Linked DNA regions of Homo sapiens: region 1 is reported to be linked to region 2. Evidence: microRNA targets listed by miRTarBase, many of them from high-throughput screens and not tested one by one. Region 2 holds a microRNA gene; the other region holds the end of a gene's coding sequence.

Region 1 (3,000 bases), not on the chromosome of region 2:
AAGCCCCCCACTGCACCCACACAGCAGTGACAGCCAGGCCCCCCACTGCACCCACACAGCAGTGACAGCCAGGAACCCCACTGCACCCACACAATAGTGACAGCCAGAACCCCCACTGCACCCACACCCCAGTGACAGCCAGGACCTCCACTGTGCCCACACCCCAGTGACAGTGAGGACCTCCACTGCATCCACAACCCTAGTGACAGCCAGGCCCTACATCCTGCCCACAATCACAGTGACAGCCAGGACCTCCACTGCACCCACACAACAGTGACAGCCAGGACCCCCTTCCTGCCCACAACTCCAGTGATAGCCAGGACCCCCATCCTGCCCATAGCCCCAGTGACAGCCAGGACCCCCATCCTGCCAATAGCCCCAGTGACAGCCAGGAGCCCCAACCTGCCCACAACCCCAGTGGCAGCCAGGACCTCCACTGCACCCACAACCACAATGGCAGCCAGGCCCCCATTCCTGCCCATAACCCCAGTGACAGCCAGGCCCCCCATTCTGCCCACAACCCCAACACCAGCAGCTCTGGATACCAGGAGTTCTCTTTGCCATCCAGGATTTTAGTAGCAAGACCTCGGCTGACCCAAATGAGGTAAGGCCACCTGGGGTCTTCACATGCCCTGCCTAATGTGAACACACAGAAGCCCTGCTGTTGCGGGACGAGCTGACTGGGGAGACCCCAGGGATGCGAAACAACATCTGGAAGGTTCACAGTGTGTCTTCACACAAATCCAAGACCTGTTCAGTCCATGCTGTCCTGGCCATGCTGGCCCTGAAGGCTGGGCTCTGCCTCCGCATTCCTCAGGAGGCTACAGGATAAATTTAGATAATGGATGTACAACACATGGCCTGGCACACAGTAGACCAACCATGGGAGTCTCCAGTGCTCAGTAAGACTCAAGTAGGGCAGCCTTGAGTGAGCAGCCGAGTACTGCAGAACTGAGCAAGGGTGGCATCCACCCTGTTCCCTTGCCAGCCTTCCCGGAGTTTACATGGAGAGGCACTGAGCCTCCATTCCACCAGCAACCAGCACCAGTGTCAGCCACACGCAGATCCAGCTTTGAATGGATCCTTCAGCCGCAGTTGAGTCTTCAGATGATGCAGCAATGGCCAACATCTACCTACAGTCTCACAAGAGACCCAGAGCCAGAGCCACCCAGCTAAGCCGCTTCCAAATCTTGACTCACAGAAACTGTGAGATAACAAACATTGATTTGGTTTCAGCCACTAAGCTTTAAGCTAACTTGGCATGCAGTACCAGTAATGGATATACCTGCTTAACATGTTTCAGAGGCTCCACGGACACTAAGGGCCTTCCCATGTTCTGTCCCAGCCCTGCCCGGCTGCAGCCCAGGGCCCTGTGCCCTGGGGACAGCCATGCTCCAGTGCCAGCCATGTGTCTCAGTACCCATTCCTCCCTGCCTACAGGAGCTGGTGAAGCTTCCTGATGAGCTCTCCTCACTGACGCCTCATTCCTCTCCTCTCCGGTCCGAATGCACACTCACCACATGGCCCAACATGTTCTGTGCACTGACTGCTAGCCCCAGAGAAATTGCCAGTCATAAACTTCTGGAGGTCAGTGCCTAGGAAAAGAGAGGCTTCAGGGTGGCCTTGCCCCAGTGGCTCTGAGTTGCAAGAACACAGGGCACCCCTCTGCCATGTGCACCACTGGGTCCCTAGAGCCCATCCCATGCCTAACACAAAGGAGATGCTCAACAAACACATAGAGGATGATGAAGGAAGGAAGAATGAATGGATGCAAGGAAGGAAGGATGGAAAGATGGATGATGGGTGGATAGGTGATAGATGAATGGATGGGTGGAAGGATGAATGGTGGATGGGTGGATAATGGACGAACAGATGGTGTACAGGTGCATGGGTGGATGGTAGCTAGGTGGATGTGTGAACAGATTGTGGATGGATGGATAGATGGGTGATGAATGGAAGGTAGATGGATGGACAGATGGTGGATAGATGGGTGGATGAGTTGATGGATGGATGGATGGATGGGTGGATGAGTGGATAGATGGATAAATGGTGGGTGGGTGGATGGATGGATGAATGGATGGATGGATGGAAGGATGGATGGATAAATGGATGGTGGGTGGATAGATGGGTGGAAGGTGGATGGATGAATGGAGGGTGGATGGATGGACAGATGGTGAATGGGTGGATAGAAGGGTGGATGGTGGGTGGATGGATGGATGATGGATGGATGAATGGATGGATGGTGGATGGGTGGATGGATGGATGGCAGATGGATAGATGGATGGATGGATGGTGGATGGGTAGATGGATGGACAGATGGACGGTAGACAGGTGGATAAATGGGTGGATGGATAGATGGATGGATGGTGGATGGTTAGATGGATGGTGGATAGGTGAATGAATGGATGGTGGATGTGCAGATGAATGGATGGTGTACGGGTAGGTGGGGTACTCACCACGGGTAGCATCACTTTCGGACAGAGGTGGCGATGATGATGATGATGACAAGCAGGGCAGTGACTCCAGCTGATAGGAAGCAGCACTTGATCTTGTGTCTCTGGAGCTGGGAGAGAGAGAGAGGTTGTTTCCATATCCTGGTCCTCCAACCTCCCATCCTCAGGGGCATTTGGCTTGTGCATACTTTGGGCTGTGGCATGCAGGGGCTGAGTCCACCCTGGGGCAGGGTCCAGAGAGAACCTGTGTCTTTCAAGGGGCTCTGTCCTGAGCTAGCATGACTGTTTATTGAATAACTGCTCTGGGCTGGCTCTGGAGCCAGGTTCAAAGGGAGAGAGGCAGGAGACTCAACTTAAGCTCCAGAGTCAGCCAGGCATGGGTGTGATTCATGCTTTGTCCATCTTGAGCTGAGGGATCTCGGCTGTTTCTCTTCTTGGTACCTTAAATTATTTTGTAAGGATAAGATGATGCCATGGACTCCATGGAGATATTTGAAAGCCTTAAAATTAAGGTGATGCCTGGAAACTACATAGCCTGGGGCCTGGC
Region 2 (3,150 bases):
TATCAATTTTTTCTAGCCAGTAGATACACCTTCGGACGTCTTGAACTTAAAATGAAAAATTAAAGAAAAACTACATTGCAAACTCTCCATTGTCTCTGGGGTTCTTAGCTCATTTTCTCTGATAAAACCATGGGCATGGACAATTAAGAAATTAAGATGTGACCAATGATACAATAACATCCTGAAAATTGTACAGTAAGCCATCTGACCCTTAGAAACTTGTGTGCAAGTGTGTTTATCTTTGTAGATAGATCTTAATTAAATTACCTGGATCAAAGCTTAACGTATACTAAATTGCCACTCATGAATTATTGTCACACATTCTTGAGACACGGCTTTACAAATTTATATCCTTAAAAACCTAGATTGGAGTGCCTTCTTCACACATCCATGTCTAATATGGATCATGTTGAGTATCTTTGGATATATTAATTTTGCAATTTAATTTCAGAAAAAAGTAGTATAACACTATTGTTTTGATTTATATTTTTCTAATTGCAAAAGTTTTCTAATTTTCATGTATGTATTGGTAATTTGCATTCTATTCCTATAGAATTGTATATATTTTATTTTGTAATTTAGTATTGCTTCTTAAAAATAAATATTGACATTGTATATCATTTCGTTACATATATTGTATGTTTTCCTAATCCATCATGCATCACATACTTTGTTTTCCATATAAATTGTCATATATGTTTATTAACTAACTCATAAATACTCATATCTGTCACCATTTTTTAATGCTTTCTTGTGTTTTGTCATGTTTAGGAACACTTTCCCCACAATTCACAATACTATCTGACAGGTGTTAGTATACCTGTCAGTGTTCTTGGTTGTAGATGACTGAAATCCATTCCAATTGACCTAAACCAGGTAATAGATTATATTGGATAAATCATATAATTATTGGAAGGCTAAAGAAACAGGCTCAGAACAGGGCAGCCCCATGGAAACCAGGTTCCAGAATGGCAGTAAAATCCCCCCACAGGAACAGTCTGATGAGATAGCGCTGCTGCCACCGTGGCACTTCCTCCCCTAGGGCCTGGGATATTTGATGGTTAATTTCTGTACCTCTGTGATGAATACATACTTGTTTGTTTCTTACTGTTTTTACTTCTTGCTTCTGTTTCAAATTTCTCCCCGAAGCCATCTGTTTTAGTTTCCTCAGGCTGCCATAACAGATTAGCATAAAACAAATGGCTAAAAGAACAGAAATGTATTCTCCCCCAGTTCTAGAAGCCAGTTCAAACTCGGGTGTCGGCAGGATTGCATTTAATCCAGGATTCTAGGAGACAATTCTTTCTTATCTCTTCCAGTTCCTGGTAGCTCCAGATGTTTCTTGGAGCTACACTTGGCTATTTAAAGTTAATTTTAATGTTTAATTAACTAAACATTAAAATAATTAAAAAGTCAGTCCCTCCATTGTGTTAGCTGTATTTGAAATACTCAAAGGCACATGTGGCTACAGGCTACTATATTGGACTATGCAAGGGTAGAACACGTGTTATCACACAATGGTCTCTTGCACAGTATTGCTCTAGAATATTCCCTGGACAGAAAAGTTTTACCTGTGGGGCATTAAACAACAAAGAGCCTTACAATTGCCTCTGACTTGTATAGTAAAGCCAACAGTTGTTTGTTGTCATCGTCAGAAAAGTTGATTCCATATTTGAATATGGTTTCACTGCTTGTCATGCTTGGCCAATGCCACAAACCATGGATTAACTGATGGCCTTCTCCACTCTCATGGCTATTCACCCCCAACAATAGAACTTATTTCTTTCATGTTGCCTCATATGGCAGAATCCCCTTCTATTTTAAGGCTGAATAATATTTCATGGTCATATACATATATACACACACACAGTCATGCATTGCTTAACAGGGAAATGTACCTTAAGGCAATTTTATCATTGTTTGAACATCATGGAGTGTCCTTATCCAAACCTAGATGGTATTGAGTGGATGCTGTTATATATACAGCCATGCACTCTGTAGTTTGGGTACACAGTGCATGGCTGTATATATAACACTATCCATTCATCTTTCAGCAGGACTTTTTTTTGGTCACAACCCTGCTAACCAAAACAGGATCTGGCCAGAGAGCATGAAGTGAAGAAACTGATAGGAAGTGGCAGATGTCAACAAAAGCAATCTCTAACTACTCATTGCAATTTAATTGTCATGGTGCTGGTGGTAGTGTCTTATGCTAATGAGCAATATGAGCAGCCTGGCAACACAACCCAGAAGTTACCACCTCTTTCCATGGCAACAACCTAAAAGTTACTGCCCCTGCCTTAGAAAGTTCTAAACAACCTGCCCCTCAATTTGCATTGGCTCACCCCTCAATTTGCATGCATTTGACCTGCCTTAGAAAGTTCTAAACAACCTGCCCCTCAATTTGCATTGGCTCACCCCTCAATTTGCATGCAATTGAATGTGGGTCTCGCTGAGTATAAATACCGTTGCCAAGAGACCATATGTTGCTGACTCTGATTGCACTGCCTATGATTTAGCCCTGCTCTGCAAGGAGCAGTACCATTCAATAAACGATTGCTAAGACTCCTAGCTCATCCTTGAATTTTTTCCGGGGTTAAGCAAGAAATCCTCCCTGGCTAAGCCCCAGTTTGGGGCCTTGCCTGTCCCACAGCAGTGTAACGTACTACACACTTAGACAATATGACATAGACTGTATCTCCTAGGCTACAACTCTGTATAGCTTATTATTATACTGAATGCTATAGGCAATTGTAACACAATAGCATCCGTACATCTAAACATACCAAAACAAAGAAAAATTACACTAAAAACACAGTATCGTAATCTTATTGGACCACATTTATATATGTGGTTTTTTGTTGACTGATGCAATACACAGTGCATGGCTGTATATGTAACACTATCAGTCACCATTCAATGAGCAATTAGGTCGTTTCTATACTTTATTGCTACTAACACTACAATGAAATACATATGGATAAACCTAGAGGGCATTAAGCTAAGTAACTCTTACTTCTAAGATTTCTACCTTAAAGAGTCATATTTATGGCCTTTACTTGAGGTAAACTTCAGAAGCCATTTGTTGTGGATTAGGTAACGTGTGGAGAAATTGCTTTGTTGGGTTTTTCTTCCTTTGCATTTTAGTTT

What was found. The annotated mature microRNA hsa-miR-5011-5p reads UAUAUAUACAGCCAUGCACUC and lies in region 2 at 1,976-1,996, shown strand. An mRNA with a match to its seed (bases 2 to 7 or 8) in the 3' UTR can be bound and repressed. Matches are read on the target gene's strand: a 7mer-m8 pairs with bases 2 to 8, a 7mer-A1 pairs with bases 2 to 7 and ends in A, and an 8mer does both.
Region 1: miRTarBase lists TSNARE1 as a target of hsa-miR-5011-5p. The part of its 3' UTR that is shown has no 7-base or 8-base seed match.

The regions. Positions count from the first base shown.
Region 1 is chr8:142,227,017-142,230,016 of GRCh38, forward strand. TSNARE1 (t-SNARE domain containing 1) reads right to left here. Exons shown (of 14, transcript NM_145003.5): 13 at 2,457-2,563. The coding sequence ends at 2,468. Among named protein-coding and RNA genes, the nearest start is that of LINC00051, 30 kb to the left of the region's middle.
Region 2 is chr18:67,079,632-67,082,781 of GRCh38, forward strand. MIR5011 (microRNA 5011) reads left to right here and starts at 1,953; the gene lies at 1,953-2,055.